6 separate regions of the Homo sapiens genome follow, and regions 2, 3, 4, 5 and 6 are each reported to be linked to region 1. Evidence: microRNA targets listed by miRTarBase, many of them from high-throughput screens and not tested one by one. Region 1 holds a microRNA gene; each other region holds the end of a gene's coding sequence.
The links. Region 1 holds the annotated microRNA hsa-miR-6744-3p (GGGCCUCUCUUGUCAUCCUGCAG, at 960-982, shown strand). A microRNA usually pairs through its seed, bases 2 to 8, with sites in the 3' UTR of a target mRNA and lowers its output. Matches are read on the target gene's strand: a 7mer-m8 pairs with bases 2 to 8, a 7mer-A1 pairs with bases 2 to 7 and ends in A, and an 8mer does both.

Region 1 (3,121 bases):
GGCCCCGGGCCCCCCAGACCCCTCGGCCTCTCTGAGTGTCCTGTGCGGTGAGTGGGGGCGGCCCCGGGCCCCCCAGACCCCTCGGCCTCTCTGAGTGTCCTGTGCGGTGAGTGGGGGCGGCCCCGGGCCCCCCAGACCCCTCGGCCTCTCTGAGTGTCCTGTGCGGTGAGTGGGGGCGGCCCCGGGCCCCCCAGACCCCTCGGCCTCTCTGAGTGTCCTGTGCGGTGAGTGGGGGCGGCCCCGGGCCCCCCAGACCCCTCGGCCTCTCTGAGTGTCCTGTGCGGTGAGTGGGGGCGGCCCCGGGCCCCCCAGACCCCTCGGCCTCTCTGAGTGTCCTGTGCGGTGAGTGGGGGCGGCCCCGGGCCCCCCAGACTCCTCGGCCTCTCTGAGTGTCCTGTGCGGTGATTGGGGGCGGCCCTGGGCCCCCCCAACCCCTTGGCTTGTCTGACACCTCTCTGTGCCCACAGACCTCACCTGCCCACCCACCAAAGTGTACAAGCCATGCGGCCCCATACAGCCTGCCACCTGCAACTCTAGGTAAGTACAGGGATGGCTGGTGCCTTCCCTGCCACCCAGGCCTGCCTGACCGGTCTGGGGGAGCAGGAGGAGGCCAGAGGGTGTCCCACTGTGGGCCACAGATCTCTGGGGTGCCCGAGCCCAGGACTCCTTGGAAAACATCCCCTGCTGCTCCCAGATGCCTTAGAGACAGAGTCAGGCAGGGGGCGCATCCCTGGCCACGCCTGGCCCCGCATCCCCACCTGGCCCCGCCACCGAGCCCCACCCATCCCCGCCCATACTTAGCCCCGCCCACCCCCACCCCAGCCCCACCCGTCCCCGCCCCCAGCCCCGCCCACCCTGAGCCCCGCACTCCACCCATTCATCTCCTTCCCTGCTCCCCACTGCCCATCCTGGGGACTCACGTGGATGACAGTGGAGGCCTCCTGGATCTCTAGGTCTCAGGGCCTCTCTTGTCATCCTGCAGGAACCAGAGCCCACAGCTGGAGGGGATGGCGGAGGGCTGCTTCTGCCCTGAGGACCAGATCCTCTTCAACGCACACATGGGCATCTGCGTGCAGGCCTGCCGTAAGCTCCGCCACCTGTGGCGGGATACGACCCTGGGCCCGACCCAAGCACACACAGGGTGGGAGGAGCCGCCCAGGACCATGATGTGCTCTCCCCTCTCCCCAGCTGACCCCCGTGACCTGTTCTGCCCCACCAGAGCATGGGATGGCCCCAGAGTGGCCCTGAACCCTGCAGAGCCCCCACGGTCCCCTGAAGCCCCACAGGGAGGCTCTGTCCTTGAGTGATCCTGTGATGGTCCCTCCCCTGAGCCCTGCCTCCCACCACCATGGACGAGGCTTCCATGCACTGACAGCTGGGCTCACGGTGCCCTGGCCTGAGCTCCAGCCACATCTGACACCCCAAAAGTTCTCCAGGGCCTTCCATCCCGGGGGGAAGCAGGCTCCAGGCCTGAGAGCACCTCCCATGGCCAGAGGCCCCTCCGCCTGCAAACTCAGCACCCTCCGTGATGCCATGCTGTTTTCTTTCCAGCCTGCGTGGGACCCGATGGGTTTCCTAAATTTGTGAGTGGCTCCACCCCCACCTGCCCTACCCCACCCTCTCGCGAGCTGAGGGAGGGAGGGAAGGAGCATCCCCATCCCACAGGGCAGCTGTGGGGCGCCCGAGTGTGACGTGGACGTGCCAGTGGCTGGTGTGCGCTTCCTGCCCCATCACTCTGGGCCACTCGGGTACCAGCCCGAGGGAGGGGGTGGCTGGACAGATGCCCAGGGTTGACCTGTGTCTGTCCAGGAGCCCTCAGGGACCCCCTTGATCCATTCCAGCCCGGGGAGCGGTGGGTCAGCAACTGCCAGTCCTGCGTGTGTGACGAGGGTTCAGTGTCGGTGCAGTGCAAGCCCCTGCCCTGTGACGCCCAGGGTCAGCCCCCGCCGTGCAACCGTCCCGGCTTCGTAACCGTGACCAGGCCCCGGGCCGAGAACCCCTGCTGCCCCGAGACGGTGTGCGGTAAGACGCTGCAGAGCAGAGGTGCCCGGCATAGGGTGAGGGGGGACAGAGCCGGTGCCCACCAGGGGCCTGTGGGTTGGGCACAGGAGAGCAGAGGAGAGCCACTGTGTCCTGGCGTGACCGCGGCAGGACCACTCGGCAGAGATGGCCTCCAGGTGCTTCATTCTCCTCCTAACGATGAGGCTGGTGACCTCTGGCCTGCCCAGGAGTGGCCCAGGGACGTGGGAAGCAGCGGGGAGGTGGCCAAGCAAGGGGCCTGGAGGGAGCCCCCAGGGGCTGTGAAGCGGTCAGGTCCTCGGGGAAAAGCACGCCTGCGACTTACTCTGGGAACAAGTGGTCGGGAGGAGGAGTGAGCAGCGCCCAGACAGTGGCCTCCATCCTCCCGCAGTGTGCAACACAACCACCTGCCCCCAGAGCCTGCCTGTGTGCCCGCCAGGGCAGGAGTCCATCTGCACCCAGGAGGAGGGCGACTGCTGTCCCACCTTCCGCTGCAGTGAGCGGGGCTGGGGCCGGGCTCCTGGGTGGCCTCTTGCTGGGGGTGGGGGAGTGCAGGATGGTGGGGGCGCTGGAGCACATGCTCCCCACCACTTGTCGAGGGCTTAGCTCCCTTTCCTTCCAGGACCTCAGCTGTGTTCGTACAATGGCACCTTCTACGGGGTAAGGGCACAGCAGTGGGTGGGTGTGGCCCTGGGGCCTGAACATGTGTGTGGGATGCCCCGGGGCTCTCTGAGCCCCACTCCTTGTCTTGACATTCCTGCCCTGAGGGCCGATCCGCACAGGGGCCCTGGACACGTCAGAGCTGGGACATGCTTGGGACTCAGGGGCACCTTACGTCGACAGCCATGAGCTCCACAACTGCTGCCTCTGAGAGGTCCCTTCAGGGGCTCCCAGCAACAGCCTGGGGGCAGCACACACTGGCCTGGGGTCCCCGCCTGCCCGCCCAGATTCCTACCCGCCCGGATTCCTGCCTGCCAGATTCCTGCCCCCATGGGGTCTCTGCCCACCCAGATTCCTGCCCACATGGGGTCTCTGCCTGCCCAGATTCCCTGCCCACCTGTGGTCCCTGTGTGCATCAGCTCCCTGCCTGCCTGGGTCCATG
Region 2 (3,115 bases), not on the chromosome of region 1:
CAAGGATCCCAGACTTGTCCAATTATAGGGCTCCCCCTGTCCCGCCCCCTCCCCCAGGGATAGGGCGGGCTGGGCCAGCCCCCAGTCACGAGGTGGGCTGTTCTCCCCCTGCCCCAGGCACAGCAGGGCAGAGGGAGGAAGGAGGTGGGGCATAGAGGTCTTTTGACCACCCCCCACAGTCCCCAGGAAGGGAGGACACCTCGCCCAGTAATACAGACACCCTCCTCCATTCTGGGGGCCAAGCGTGGAAGGGGAATGTGGAGGCTGCCGCCCAGAGTCCTCCTTTCCTGACCCTGTCCTTTCCTGTGCCTGGATGAATGTAATCTGGAGAGGGGGCTGGGGATCTGGACTCCTGGATCCCAGAAAGAAAGTAGGGCTAGGGGGCTGGACAGAAGTGGGATGGGAGGGGCTGGGGGCGGTAGCTCACGCCTGTAATCCCAGCACTTTGGGAGGCCACAGTGGGCGAATCACTTAAGGTCAGGAGTTTGAGACCAGCCTGGCCAACATGGTGAAACCCCATCTCTACTAAAAATACAAAAGTTAGCCAGGCGTGGTGGCGGGCGCCTGTAATCCTAGCTACTTGGGAGGCTGAGGCAGGAGAATCGCTTGAACCCGGGAGGCGGAGGTTACAGTGAGCCGAGATCTCGCCACTGCACTCCAGCCTCAGCAAGAGGGAGACTGTCTCAAAAAAAGAAAAAAAAGAAAGTGGGGCTAGGCGGCTGGACAGAAGTGGGATGGGAGGGGTGGGAACAGTATGATGCACCTGCTAAAAGTCGAGGCTTTGCAAATGGGACCTGGGTTTTAATCACAGCTTCCTCTTTGGTTGTGACCTTGAGCACAGGGGAGCCCCCTCCCCACATGTGAAATGAGATTCCAGCACCTCCCCCTGGCTGCCACAGGTATTGTGGTTTCCAGGGGCTTGAAGCCGTGCTTCTGGGTTAAGGTTAGGATTCTGGAGTCAAATTGCCAGGGCGTGAATCCTGGCTCTGCCAGTTGCCAGCTGTGTGACCTTGGGCAAATGACTTGTCCTCTCTGAGCATCAAGTTCCTTTGCTCATCAGACTGGGAAAGCAGCGGCACGGGTATGTTTGGTGACAAGCTAACGTGTATTGAGCATGGAGGACAGCCCTGGCACACAGCGGTCCTATGTTAGGGCTAGCAATGGACAGGCCACAGTGAACGCTCAGACGCTGTCACTTTCCTAAGCCCTGTTATAAATCCCAGATGTTTCAGAGGAGAAACCCGTGGTTCAGCAGCAAGACGAATGGCAAAACCACACAGTGAGAACTGGGAGAGACTGGGACTCATTCCTGGCTCCTGGAGCGGGTGGGATCAGAAGATTCTGCGGGTCAGGGGAGGCTGAACTCCTGGTTCGAGAAGGAACCCCCAGTGCCGGGCCGGGCCTGTTTGCTTTGGCTGGCAAGGGGTGGCTGAGGTGGGGTTGGTAACCTGGGGTTGGTTCTACTCAGCAGCCTCCTTCCCCAGACCCTGGGGGCAGACAGGGTTTCAGTTCCTGGAGGCTCGGGAGTCGTGGTGGGCATCAGCTGACCCCAGCCCTAGGTTGGCAAAATCCAGACAGCACCAAGTCCTCAGACACAGGTGACCCAACTCCCATGGCTGGCCTAGGCCCCTCCTCCCAGGCCTGCGAGTCCTTGAGCCCCTTCTCCCTGACACAGCAGTTCCTAGTACCCTAGTTGTTCTGAAGCTGTTCCAGTAGCTTGAACCCTCTCCCAGCTCCCTGCCCCCATCTCTGCACTCAGAGACAGTGTCATCTCTGCTGCTGCAGTCTGCAGGGACAAAGTCCTCTATAGCCACTCCGGCCAGGTCAAGCTGGGGGCAAGTGACCTTGAGACCCTACCCTCAGGCAAGGGAAGGCCCGTAGTGTCCCCCAGCAGGGCAGATGTTCCGGATGGGAAGATAGCGACCCCAGGCCACGCTGCGCCCCTCTGAGCCGGACTTAAGGCAGCATCAAGGATCCGCTGCTTTCCGTGCTCCGGCCCTCTGGCGCCCCCTGCAGGCGGCTGGGGGAAGGTCAGGGCGGCCAGACTCCGGATGAAATGCTCAAAACAGGCCAGACACACTTGAGAAAACGGAGGCCTCCCATCGTTTTTTTTCCCACGTATATTTTTTGTTGTTTTTTGTTTTTTTTCTGTAAAATGTCCCGGTTCTTCCATAACTTATAAACATGATTTATACCGAGGAGATGGGAAAGTGGACGGGGCAGGGTGGACTGACCGGGGATGGGGAAGCTCCTCTCGCTGCCCCCTCGGGGCGGGCCCAGGCCCTTTGGAGGATGGGGACGCCAGGACACTCCTCCCTGAGGTTGTCTGGCCGCCTCTGCCCCTGGTGCTCAGAATCCTGCGTGCCCCTCAATTCCGGAATCCCTCCCGGGACCCCAGGCCCACTGGGCATGCTGCCCCTGCTACTCAGAATCCCGAAGCGCCATTCAGTTCCAGAATCCCCTCCTCAGCTGCTGGGGTGGCGGGGTCCCTCCTTTCCAATGTCCCCCCCGACCCCCAAGGGGGGAGGGAAGGGAGGGGGGCTCAGGTCTCCCCTCTGTGGCAGGGGGAGGTGGAGGTGGAGGTGGAATCGGAAGGGCGTGGAAGGCGGGGGCCAGGAGGGCTCAGCCGATGGTGAGGCCAAAGCCACACTGAAACTTGTTCTTGCGGTGATTCAGGAAGGCCCCAAGGGCCAGTGTCAGGGGCAGGGGTGGGAGCTTCTTCTCCAGCGTGGCACCCACGATCCAGTTGCTATCCACAGAGCCTGCAGGGAAGAGCTGAGGTGAGAGGCGTGCCAGCTTCCCACCATATCCATGCAGAGTTCCTGGCCACCTTGGATACCAGCCACATGCCGACAGCTTCCAGACCTTTAACCACACTGCTCCTGCCACCCTGAAACCCCATCACACCAACAACTTCACGCTGGAGCAAATGGCTCACTCCTCCTCTGCTCTCCGCTCAGTGACCCCTGCCCTCTGAAAAGCCCTCTAGACCCCTGGGTTCCCCCAACCTAGTCCTGCCCACTCTGCGGATGAATCTGTTCCTCTCACTGAGTCCCGTGAAGACAGGGCTGGTCACCGCTGTGGCCCCAGCAGTGCTCAGCAGGAGGCTCAAACA
Region 3 (3,101 bases), not on the chromosome of region 1:
TGAAGGACTGACACCATGATTAGAAAGCAGAGCCAGCACCATGGCCCGTCCCTGAGCATGTCCAGCAAACCCTGCCAGGCTCTGCAGCTCCTGAGCACCCTGCCTTCGGGTCTGCCAGTGTGTGGGGGCCAGAAGAGAAAAACAACCCAGGGGGAATGCCTCCTTCCCCCAGCAGGAAAGCAGCTTGGTCATCATCTGTCTGAAAGCAGGTGCTGCAGCAGCTGGCAACAAAGCCACTCTGAAAGGAGCTGTGTGCACTGCCTGTCTGGAAGGCCATGCCAGAGTCCATCGTTGCCTCCACCCTACCTGTGCAGGAAACCTGGACATCACCACTTCAAGGCCCTACCTTCCTTTCTGGGCAGAGCCCAACCACAATAAACAGGACGCGTTTTAATTAAAAACCAGGTCACCTGGACTCTCCCAAGGACTCTCAAGCCTGCCTAGGTGGATGCTGCATGACTGGCCCTCAGACACACGGCAGACCATAACTCACACACCCCCAGGAGCTGCCTGGGTCCCAAGGGCACAAAAGCCCCAAAGCCCCAATAGGACAGGGTTCAAAAGAGAAGGCAGCAATCCCAGGCTGGAGTATCCACTTCAGGTCCACTAAAGGGAGATGGGGAAGGTGGCCTGTCCAGAAGCCTGTGGGACAGGGTAAAGGTCAGCTGGGTGACTAGGCTGTCCATCCTAGAGAGCAACTCTGGGTTCTACTGCCAGACCCACAGGTGAGCCAGGCCACAGTGCACTGGAGGTAGGCATCAGGGAGCAGTCTGACCCAACCCACAAAAGGGGGGATGGGGCCTGAGTCATCGGACGGAGGGCAGCTGTGACCTGGCACAGAAGCATGGGGCTGGGCCAGGACATCCAGGGACTTCTCACATCTGACCAGAATCAAGACTGAAAATGGGTTTCTTCTGCCAGCTCACTTGCTTTGCTACCAGGGCTATACCTGCTTTCTAAAAATAGCTTCCCACCTATTTCCAAGGTTTCCAGTTGTTTTACCTACAAGGTATCTGTGCCCTGAAATAACTCACACATAAAACCATCTGAACCCAGAGCCTTTTCTAGTGATAGTTACCATAAAATAATCCCAACAATTTATATTTTTCTAAATAAGGTTTTTGTTTTTTGTTGTTTTTTTTTTTTTGGGATGGAGTTTCACTCTTGTTGTCCAGGCTGGAGTGCAATGGCGTGATCTCGGCTCACCACACCCTCTGCCTCCTGGGTTCAAGCAATTCTTCTGCCTCAGCCTCCCAAGTAGCTGAGATTACAGGCATGCACCACCACACTTGGCTAATTTTGTATTTTTAGGAGAGATGGATTTCTCCATGCTGGTCAGGCTGGTCTTGAACTCCTGACCTCAGGTGATCCACCCACCTTGGCCTCCCAGAGTGCTGGGATTACAGGTGTGAGACACTGCTCCCGGCCAGTTTCTGAATAAGTTTAATCAGATGCTTGCTAATTAGTTTTTCCTAAAATAGTTGGCTGTATTTCCAATTCACATTTCTGCTTTTTCTTCCTACTTTCCAGGAAGGTGTTGTTTTGTTGTTTTCACAATTGTAAACCTGAAAGGGACTTGAACTTCTTGTCCAAGCACCAGAGTGGGCACACACTGCACACACTGGGCGGCTGTACCTGCCTATCCTGTGGTAAACTTGGCTCCAGGAGCTTCCAAGCTCAGCTTCCACTAGAAAACCCCTCCTTGTGTGGAACAGGTCTTTCTTCATTCCATTCCTCTGGGCCTGGGGCCTCACAGCTCTGGACTGCTGCCTGGTCCTCACTTCACCTACAGCTCTCGGAAGTCAGTTCTCTACCTGCAGAGCCACCCACCCCCTACTCAGCCCCACCCAGCTTCTTTGATCAGACCCTTGGACCCTCAAAGCCCCTGCCAGAAACCACAGCTGCAATGCTGACCTGGAATGCTCATGGCCAGGCCTCTGCTCCTGACAGAATGGGAAACAAAGACTTGCTGGTAGGCAGCCACTGCACCACCTCAGCCAGTAATCCAACACGTGTTTAATGAGCACCAATTGTGTACCAGGCCACAGAGCTGACTAAGACAGAGCCCCTGTGCTGAGGGTCACAGTCTGCCAGGAGGGAGATCCAAGTCATTTACACACTAGGGCTTAAGTGCTGAATCCGCAATGCATGCGAGTGCGGAGTGAGCAGGGGATGGCAGCACAGCAGCAGGGAAGAGGAGCCTGCTTCAGAACACCAGGCACGATTAGAGCTACAGTGTTAACACACAAAGGGCGAATGCCTGCAGCTGAGCCTGGCAAGGGGCTTGCATCCCACCTTCCTGCATCCAAACCTTCCAGCTGCCCAGAACTGCTGGTAATCCCACAGGAAACATCATTCTTTGCCAAGATGCTATCCCACTCATCCCCCAGAATCAAAGTGGCCACTTCCTCCAGGCAGCCTTCCTCACATTCCAGCTGGGACAGAAGTCACAGGGAGCAGAGAGGGTGGGGCTAGGGGGACAGACACAGAAACCCCATACAGGAACGAGGTCCCAACAGGGCAGACGTGGCAGACCCAGTTCAGTCCCAGCCAGTGTGGAAGACACCAAGGGGGGTGTTTTATGGGGGTGGAGGTGACAAAGATGATGCAACTATCTGCTGAGAGTTGATCTACAAAACGACCCCCTCGTGGGAGCAGGCCTGGGTGAGACGGCACTCCCAGAAGACGGGCAGGGATGCAGCAGAGAGCCAGCAGCAGGGAAAGGGCACAGGGCGGAGGTCAAGCTCTGCTGGAGTTGGGGGAGCTGGTTCTGCTCAGCGCAGAGTCCAAAACAAGCGCATCTTGCCCAGCTATGGGGTCTGAAGTCATCTGGGGACACCACTCTGCTCTGACTGGGGACTATGGGGCGCTCAAGCCACACAGGCCACTTCATCATGAGGGGCAGCATTGTTCCCACCTGGGCTGTGTTCAGAACCCAGGAGAAAGTGGTGGCTCTCCTGGGGTCTCCGGGGCCTCCACCACCTCCTGTGGGGTACCTAAGGACACCTCCTGGTCTCCCTCTGTCTCCAAAACCTCCTCCTCTGTTTTCTGGGGTTTTGGACCTCCTGGATGAGCTGGGTCTGGTCTCTGGGCAGGAGGAT
Region 4 (3,000 bases), not on the chromosome of region 1:
GGAAAAGATGAATTTTAACAGTTTTGCAACACAGTCCAGGAAAAGGAAGTGGGGAGCTCACTTGTCCTCAAGTTCTACTATGTGCCACTAGAGAGTTGTCACCAACAGGGGCCAGCTTTCCACATATTGCTTGCAAGCCGCCCACCACAGCACCACAGGCCCTGATGTGAGGCCGTCCGCTCACGTTTCCTTCTCTCCAATTCTTTTCTAGGGGCGCTGCATCAACTTCACCAGGGTCAAGAACAACCAGCCAGCCAAGTACCCACTCAACAACGCCTACCACACCTCCTCGCCGCCTCCTGCCCCCATCTACACTCCCCCACCTCCTGCGCCCCACTGCCCTCCCCCGCCCCCCAGCGCCCCTACCCCTCCCATCCCGTCCCCACCTTCCACCCTTCCCCCTCCTCCCCAGGCTCCACCTCCCAACAGGGCACCTCCTCCCTCCCGCCCTCCTCCAAGGCCTTCTGTCTAGAGCCCAAAGTTCCTGCTCTGGGCTCTCTCAGAAACTTCAGGAGATGTTAGAACAAGTCTTTCCAGTTAGAGAAGAGGAGTGGTGATAAAGCCCACTGACCTTCACACATTCTAAAAATTGGTTGGCAATGCCAGTATACCAACAATCATGATCAGCTGAAAGAAACAGATATTTTAAATTGCCAGAAAACAAATGATGAGGCAACTACAGTCAGATTTATAGCCAGCCATCTATCACCTCTAGAAGGTTCCAGAGACAGTGAAACTGCAAGATGCTCTCAACAGGATTATGTCTCATGGAGACCAGTAAGAAAATCATTTATCTGAAGGTGAAATGCAGAGTTGGATAAGAAATACATTGCTGGGTTTCTAAAATGCTGCCTTCCTGCCTCTACTCCACCTCCATCCCTGGACTTTGGACCCTTGGCCTAGGAGCCTAAGGACCTTCACCCCTGTGCACCACCCAAGAAAGAGGAAAACTTTGCCTACAACTTTGGAAATGCTGGGGTCCCTGGTGTGGTAAGAAACTCAACATCAGACGGGTATGCAGAAGGATGTTCTTCTGGGATTTGCAGGTACATAAAAAATGTATGGCATCTTTTCCTTGCAAATTCTTCCAGTTTCCAAGTGAGAAGGGGAGCAGGTGTTTACTGATGGAAAAGGTATGTTGCTATGTTGATGTGTAAGTGAAATCAGTTGTGTGCAATAGACAGGGGCGTATTCATGGGAGCATCAGCCAGTTTCTAAAACCCACAGGCCATCAGCAGCTAGAGGTGGCTGGCTTTGGCCAGACATGGACCCTAAATCAACAGACAATGGCATTGTCGAAGAGCAACCTGTTAATGAATCATGTTAAAAATCAAGGTTTGGCTTCAGTTTAAATCACTTGAGGTATGAAGTTTATCCTGTTTTCCAGAGATAAACATAAGTTGATCTTCCCAAAATACCATCATTAGGACCTATCACACAATATCACTAGTTTTTTTTGTTTGTTTGTTTTTTGTTTTTTTTCTTGGTAAAGCCATGCACCACAGACTTCTGGGCAGAGCTGAGAGACAATGGTCCTGACATAATAAGGATCTTTGATTAACCCCCATAAGGCATGTGTGTGTATACAAATATACTTCTCTTTGGCTTTTCGACATAGAACCTCAGCTGTTAACCAAGGGGAAATACATCAGATCTGCAACACAGAAATGCTCTGCCTGAAATTTCCACCATGCCTAGGACTCACCCCATTTATCCAGGTCTTTCTGGATCTGTTTAATCAATAAGCCCTATAATCACTTGCTAAACACTGGGCTTCATCACCCAGGGATAAAAACAGAGATCATTGTCTTGGACCTCCTGCATCAGCCTATTCAAAATTATCTCTCTCTCTAGCTTTCCACAAATCCTAAAATTCCTGTCCCAAGCCACCCAAATTCTCAGATCTTTTCTGGAACAAGGCAGAATATAAAATAAATATACATTTAGTGGCTTGGGCTATGGTCTCCAAAGATCCTTCAAAAATACATCAAGCCAGCTTCATTCACTCACTTTACTTAGAACAGAGATATAAGGGCCTGGGATGCATTTATTTTATCAATACCAATTTTTGTGGCCATGGCAGACATTGCTAATCAATCACAGCACTATTTCCTATTAAGCCCACTGATTTCTTCACAATCCTTCTCAAATTACAATTCCAAAGAGCCGCCACTCAACAGTCAGATGAACCCAACAGTCAGATGAGAGAAATGAACCCTACTTGCTATCTCTATCTTAGAAAGCAAAAACAAACAGGAGTTTCCAGGGAGAATGGGAAAGCCAGGGGGCATAAAAGGTACAGTCAGGGGAAAATAGATCTAGGCAGAGTGCCTTAGTCAGGGACCACGGGCGCTGAATCTGCAGTGCCAACACCAAACTGACACATCTCCAGGTGTACCTCCAACCCTAGCCTTCTCCCACAGCTGCCTACAACAGAGTCTCCCAGCCTTCTCAGAGAGCTAAAACCAGAAATTTCCAGACTCATGAAAGCAACCCCCCAGCCTCTCCCCAACCCTGCCGCATTGTCTAATTTTTAGAACACTAGGCTTCTTCTTTCATGTAGTTCCTCATAAGCAGGGGCCAGAATATCTCAGCCACCTGCAGTGACATTGCTGGACCCCTGAAAACCATTCCATAGGAGAATGGGTTCCCCAGGCTCACAGTGTAGAGACATTGAGCCCATCACAACTGTTTTGACTGCTGGCAGTCTAAAACAGTCCACCCACCCCATGGCACTGCCGCGTGATTCCCGCGGCCATTCAGAAGTTCAAGCCGAGATGCTGACGTTGCTGAGCAACGAGATGGTGAGCATCAGTGCAAATGCACCATTCAGCACATCAGTCATATGCCCAGTGCAGTTACAAGATGTTGTTTCGGCAAAGCATTTTGATGGAATAGGGAACTGCAAATGTATGATGATTTTGAAAAGGCTCAGCAGGATTTGTTCTTAAACCGACTCAGTGTGTCATCCCCGGTTATTTAGAATTACAGTTAAGAAGG
Region 5 (3,121 bases), not on the chromosome of region 1:
GCACAGACTGCCCTGACAGTGGTAGCTTTGCCACCAGGCTATTACTTGTACTCCCAGGGCCTCCTCACTCTCAACACCGTGTGCCTCATGAGTGGGATATCGGGCTTTGCCCTGACCATGCTGTGCTGGATGAGCTATTTCTTACGGAGACTGGTTGGTATCCTGTATCTGAATGAGTCTGGCACCATGCTGCGGGTGGCCCATCTGAACTTCTGGGGCTGGCGGCAGGACACATACTGTCCCATGGCAGATGTGATTCCCCTGACAGAAACCAAGGACCGGCCTCAGGAGATGTTTGTGCGTATCCAGCGGTACAGTGGGAAACAGACCTTCTACGTCACCCTGCGCTATGGACGCATCCTGGACAGAGAGCGTTTCACACAGGTGTTTGGGGTACATCAGATGCTCAAGTGAACAACTGGGACCTGGACCTCTGGGTAACCCTGGGTCGCCTGGATTAACAGGAAGGCTGAGGGTGTGGGCAAGGCTGAAGAAAGGGGACTGGGTACTTGGAGACTTTGCCTGGGCCCCTGGGAACATGTGTTTTGTGGTGAATAAATTCACAAGGCAAGAGCTGGTGTACAGGTTTAGGAAAAAGGCTCTAAGCAAGTTCTTACAGCACTTGTTTGTGACATTCAGTCAGATAATGGCCAGAAGTTTTTGTTAAGAGCCAGTTCTTAGAAGAACCTATGCCAAGGTCACCCATAGAGTCCATTGGTGTGAAAGAGAAAGGCAAAGAGGTGTGGCGGGGGAGCGTAAGATTTGGAGTCAGAAGTCTCAGTTCTGTCATTTGTCCTGGAGCAGGTTATTGAGTCTCTTTGAATCTTGGTTTTCACATCTGTAAAATGGAAAGTCCTGCTTGTTTCATGGGATGGGTGTGGGAATAAACAATAAATGTCAAACGTGTGGCAGACTCAACAGCCTACAGCAGATATTATTAAGCATTTGGTCAGAGGTTTTAGCAGGGAGAAAGGCTTCGAGCAGTCAGCAGGGACTTCCAGAGCCCTGTGCTGTGCCCCTCACATATCCAGCGGCAGAAGGGTCTGTCAGGATGTTAACTACACATTGACGAGCAGATGTCGTCCAGGTAGGCACGAAACCCCAGTTGAGATTTGTTCACCACCCAGAGGTCTAGAGGCTCTTGCTTTGGATGGCCCTGCAGTGTAATAAAGCCAAATGCACCGGATGCTGGTACGTTATTTTATAAACTTAAGCCAGTTATATACATTGCCCCACATAATTAATAATATATGTTCATTATACAATTTGTAACACAGTAAAGAGGAAGGAAGGCATGATCTTTATTATTTTGCCACTCGAAAGTCAATAAGAATGTTTTATCGCTGGGGGCGGTGGCTCACACCTGTAATCCCAGCACGTTGGGAGGTCAAGGTGGCGGATCACGAGGTCAGGAGATCGAGGCCATCCTCGCTAACAGGGTGAAACCGTGTCTCCACTAAAAAATACAAAAAAATTAGCTGGGCGTGGTGGCAGGTGCCTGTAGTCCCAGCTACTCGGGAGGCTGAGGCAGGACAATGGTGTGAACCTGGGAGGCGGAGTTTGCAGTGAGCCGAGATCACGCCACTGCACTCCAGCCTGGGCGACAGAGTGAGACTCCGTCTCAAAAAAAAAATATTTTTTTTTATTGTGTAGCCTTCCATTTTTCTTAACCATACCAAGATACACCTAACAAATTTATCCTTTTAATCATTTTTAAGTGTGCAATTCAGGGACATTAAGTATATTAACAATGTTGTACAGGCTGGGCACACTGTCTCATGCCTGTAATCCCAGCACTTTGGGAGGCTGAGGCGTGTGGATCACTTGAAGTCAGGAGTTCAAGACCAGCCTGGCCAACATGGCAAAACCCTGTCTCTACTGAAAATACAAAAATTAGCTGGGCATGGTGGTGGGCACTTGTATTCCCAGCTACTTGAGAAGCTTGAACCCGGGAGGCAGAGGTTGCAGTGAGCCGAGATTGCACCAATGCACTCCAGCCTGGGAGACAGCCAGACTATCTCAAAAACAAACAAAACAAAAAATGTTGTACAACCGTCACCACCATCTATTTCCAGAACATTTTCATTATCCCAAACAGAACTAATATACCCATTGAGCAATAATTTCCTTCTTTTTCCAGCCCTTGGCAACCACTAACCTGCTTTCTGTCCCTCTGGATTCACCTGTTCTGGATATTTCATATAAATGGAATCATACAATATGTGACCCTTTGTATCTGGCTCTTTTTTTTTTTTTTTTTTGAGTTGAAGTCTCGCTCTGTTTCCCAGGCCAGAGAGCAGTGGCGCGATGTCCACTCACTGCAACTTCCGCCTCACCAGCTCAAATGATTCTGCCTCAGCCTCCCAAGTAGCTGGGATTATAGGTGCCTGACGCCAAGCCTGGCTAATTTTTGTATTTTTAGTAGAGATGGGGTTTCACCATGTTGTCCAGGCTGACCTGGAATCTCTGACCTCAAGTGATCACCCACCTCGGCCTCCCACAGTGCTGGGATTATAGGCGTGAGCCAGTGCGGCTGGCCTGTATCTGGCTTCTTTGACTTGGTGTAGTGTTGTCAAGGTGCATCCGTGTTGTAGCATATGTCAGTGCTATTTCTTTTTTATGGTTAAATATATTTACGGGTGCAGTGTGTATTCTCTGTGTGTGCCACATTTTGTTTGTCCATCTGTTGATGGACATTTGAGTTGTCGTCACCTTTTGACTACTGATGAATGAACATTTGGCTATTGCTGTGAACACTGGTATACGAGTATCTGTTTGAGTCCCTGCTTTCAGTTGTTTTGGGTACGTACTGAGAAGTGGATTAACTGGATCCTGTGGTAATTCTGTTTATTTTTGAGGACCTGCCACTTTTCCACAGCAGCTGTACCATTTTACATTCTCACCAGCAACAGACAAGGGTTCCTGTTTCTCTACATTCTTGTCAACAGTGGTTACTTTTCCTTTTTTTTAAATTTGAGATGGAGTCTTACTCTGTCACCCAGACTGGGTTGCAGTGGTGTGATCTTGGCTCACTGCAGACTCCGCCTCTCAGGTTCAAGCGATTCTCCTGCCTCAGCCTCCTGAGTAGCTGGGATTACAGGCACCCACCACCATGCCCAGC
Region 6 (3,121 bases), not on the chromosome of region 1:
CTCACCATCTCTCCCACCACCACTGCCACCACCGCCACCACCACCACCTCCGCCACCACGCCCACCCCCACCACCTTCACCACCAGGAGGCGGGGCTGCACGCCAACCCGGTGACGCCCTGCCTGTGCATGTGTCCCTTGTTCTCCTGCCAGTGGGAAGGCCGCCTGGAGGTGGTGGTGCCCCACCTGCGGCAGATCCATAGGGTTGACATCCTCCAGGGAGCCGAGATCGTCTTCCTGGCCACGGACATGCACCTCCCCGCGCCGGCTGATTGGATCATCATGCACTCCTGCCTTGGCCACCACTTTCTGTTGGTGCTGAGGAAACAGGAGAGGCATGAAGGGCACCCCCAGTTCTTTGCCACCATGATGCTGATTGGGACCCCCACCCAGGCCGACTGCTTCACCTATCGCCTGGAGCTCAACAGAAACCATCGGCGCCTCAAGTGGGAGGCCACGCCCCGGTCTGTTCTTGAGTGCGTGGACTCGGTGATTACGGACGGGGACTGCCTCGTCCTCAACACCTCGCTGGCACAGCTCTTCTCTGACAACGGCAGCCTTGCCATTGGGATTGCCATCACCGCGACAGAGGTCCTCCCCTCAGAAGCTGAAATGTGAGGCCAGGAGCCACGGATGCTCCCCACACAGCCTCCCTAGGAAACGCCTGGGACCTCCCAATACCAGGACTCCAGACTCCTTTTTATTCTTCTCCTTTCTTTTTTTTTTTTTTAATTTTTAATTATTATTATTTTTTTGTCTCAGGTACTTTGTGAGATTTAGTTTTTGTCTGCCATGGGCATTATATTATGTAAACATCCTGTAATTTAAGATCTTGGTGTGATGTTTGTCCTGCCTTGTTGGTGTTGTTTTATAGAATGTTTGTAAGATTTATTCAGAATAGTTTTTTCCTGTCACCTCCAAGTCCTTTCTCCGCTAGTTTTGAAAGGATCAAAACACCATCAAGCAGACTGTTGGGGTTGAAAGGAGGCTTCGTGTGAGAATCATTTCTTGTTTCTCTTTTCAGTCTATTTCAGAGCAAGCTAAATCTGAACGTGTGCAGTCGGCAGGTTGGGGAAGGGGCCCAGCTCAGAGATGGATCACATTTCAGACCATCCAGACATGACTCTGACAGCTTCCCAGGAACCTCAAGGTCAAAGCTGAGCTAGCCGGGCATGAGGAGATCGTGTCTCCACCGCAGGGCTGGGGACTGGGCTAGAGGTGTCATTGTGTGCTGAGTGCTCAGGTTGATGCTGGGGCTCAGGAGAGTAGTCAGAGGCCCACCTTCCTGTGACGGGCTCTTGTCACCTTGTTCCCAGGCTGTGCCGTCTTCTCCTGCTCTGGAATCAAAGTCCTCAGATTTTTGATGCTTTCTTAAAAACCCCTTTGCCTTCTGTTGAGCAAGTAGTAGAAAAGAATAGGCAAGATGGGGGGTGGGGATGAAAAGCAACAGGAAAAAGAGAACATAAAATTAATCTCCCATCTCTGAGAGGGCACTCCCTCCTCAGAGAGTTTTATTATCAAGTTATAAAATCCATCAGTTCCTCCCTAGGGTGCAGTTCTTTCATATCATGCAAAAAGCAGAACCAGGACTCATCATCAAATGCAAAGAACTCAGAGGGTGGCACCCAGGATCTCTGACCTGGCGGGCTGGTCATCACTTACAAACCTGGGAGGCTCTCTTCCCTTTCCTCACTTTCTAAAATGCTCCTACCGTCCCATTCAGCACGCAGACGTGACCACGGCTCAAGTATGTATTCAGCACCTGTTGCAGTATGAATGACACAGTGACGGAAATCCATATTTCCTCTGCGCAGGCTGCTTTCTCTTATTTGGTTGTCAGAACAATTCATCAACATCTTCTTGTAGAAGTCTCTCGTGTATTTGAAGAAAGTCAGCATGTTTAGTCAACTTTGTCTTTTCTGTTCTAAGTTGGACACCTATAAGCCTTCCCAGTAGGACCTCTTCTAGCTCCTTTTTATCGCATTTGTCCCCCCCCTCTGGCTGCTCTCCAGACACTGCAGAAGTCAGGCACCCCATCCCCAGCACATTCCCATGACAGCCAAATGGGCCTTTGGCCAACCAGACATTACTCTCCGTGCCCTGTTCCTGCACCTCACCCCCTCGGCTTGGTCCTGGCAGGCATCCAAGTGACTACTTAGTCTCAGGCAGGTTGCCCTGGCTGGCCATCTGCAATTTTTTCTCCACCAAAAATAACTGATCCTGAAACACAACACCCTTCCCCCAACAACTGGGTTAATTCTCCAGCCACTTTTGGTGCCAACTTACACCCCCACGCACCAGAAGGGAGGTGCCAGTCGATACAAGATTTAATAACAGAGGCTGCTCTGGTCACACAGTAATCGCTGGGCCCCTGGGGCTGAGACTGCATTCCGTCAGAGCCCTGAGAGGGGCAAAAAACATTGCCACAGATGGAGGCACATGTCAGATGCTGCAGTCGCAAAAAAGGATTGGGGCCTGCGCATTCTTTGAGCTCTCAGATGCCCTGCCAGGGCACCAGCCACCCTCCTCCAATCACACAGATGCCCAAGAACACCTGAGGCTGGTCCGTCTGTGCGTGGAAAGACTGGCTGTCTTCCTCCTCACTGCATCCCCAATCCCCTTCCCAGAACCTAAGACCCCCTTGGCTGTAAGTCTTATGCCTTTAGAAGCCACAGGTCCTCTCCTGGTTTTTGAGACTCAACCACTTTGAAAGCATTTGTGTAGCATCACAGGTGCTCCAGATCAACAAACAAAAACCTCACTAAGAATATAACTAACATTCACAGGGCCTTAGGGCTCCTGCAGACATCACCTTTGCCTTCTGGTTGTGCCAAGTTACCTGAGCCACACTGGGAATGACTTCAGGTTATTTTCACTGCACACAAGACTGTATTATGAATAAGTGATCCCAGATGGGAGCTTATATTTTTGTTCCTAGAAAGCTTTAGGACAAAGCATGGGAAATGTATTATTATCTTCCATCTATGGTGCTCCCCAAAAGGCCTCTCCATATCCATATGTGAAGAACTGGAGAAGAAGGAGCAAACTAACAACCAAGAATTGGGAATAGGAAATGGTACCAGCAGTTTGTATTTGAGCTTCACAGTTCCTGAAGGGCTCTT

Region 2: the mRNA of TOMM40 is a reported target of hsa-miR-6744-3p. The part of its 3' UTR that is shown has no 7-base or 8-base seed match.
Region 3: the mRNA of RTL10 is a reported target of hsa-miR-6744-3p. Seed matches in the 3' UTR shown: 7mer-m8 at 1,933-1,939 and 7mer-A1 at 1,380-1,386.
Region 4: the mRNA of ANTXR1 is a reported target of hsa-miR-6744-3p. The part of its 3' UTR that is shown has no 7-base or 8-base seed match.
Region 5: the mRNA of TMEM186 is a reported target of hsa-miR-6744-3p. The part of its 3' UTR that is shown has no 7-base or 8-base seed match.
Region 6: miRTarBase lists SIAH3 as a target of hsa-miR-6744-3p. Seed matches in the 3' UTR shown: 7mer-m8 at 1,271-1,277.

What each region holds. Positions count from the first base shown.
Region 1 is chr11:1,255,689-1,258,809 of GRCh38, forward strand. It overlaps MIR6744 (microRNA 6744), which reads left to right and starts at 917; the gene lies at 917-982. MUC5B (mucin 5B, oligomeric mucus/gel-forming) reads left to right here. Exons shown (of 49, transcript NM_002458.3): 38 at 468-537; 39 at 983-1,083; 40 at 1,552-1,583; 41 at 1,842-2,022; 42 at 2,411-2,515; 43 at 2,642-2,679.
Region 2 is chr19:44,902,677-44,905,791 of GRCh38, reverse strand. TOMM40 (translocase of outer mitochondrial membrane 40) reads right to left here. Exons shown (of 9, transcript NM_001128917.2): 9 at 2,103-2,762. The coding sequence ends at 2,623. Among named protein-coding and RNA genes, the nearest start is that of APOE, 1.6 kb to the left of the region's middle. RefSeq lists an enhancer at 1-679.
Region 3 is chr22:19,848,239-19,851,339 of GRCh38, forward strand. RTL10 (retrotransposon Gag like 10) reads right to left here. Exons shown (of 3, transcript NM_024627.6): 3 at 1-3,101. The coding sequence ends at 2,929. The region is part of intron 2 of GNB1L (G protein subunit beta 1 like); the gene reads right to left. Among named protein-coding and RNA genes, the nearest start is that of GNB1L, 5.1 kb to the right of the region's middle.
Region 4 is chr2:69,245,014-69,248,013 of GRCh38, forward strand. ANTXR1 (ANTXR cell adhesion molecule 1) reads left to right here. Exons shown (of 18, transcript NM_032208.3): 18 at 212-3,000. The coding sequence ends at 472. Among named protein-coding and RNA genes, the nearest start is that of GFPT1, 140 kb to the right of the region's middle.
Region 5 is chr16:8,793,245-8,796,365 of GRCh38, reverse strand. It overlaps TMEM186 (transmembrane protein 186), which reads left to right. Exons shown (of 2, transcript NM_015421.4): 2 at 1-1,186. The coding sequence ends at 414. Among named protein-coding and RNA genes, the nearest start is that of TMEM186, 2.8 kb to the left of the region's middle.
Region 6 is chr13:45,780,879-45,783,999 of GRCh38, reverse strand. SIAH3 (siah E3 ubiquitin protein ligase family member 3) reads left to right here. Exons shown (of 2, transcript NM_198849.3): 2 at 1-3,121. The coding sequence ends at 617. Among named protein-coding and RNA genes, the nearest start is that of SIAH3, 69 kb to the left of the region's middle. RefSeq lists enhancers at 1-350, 351-851.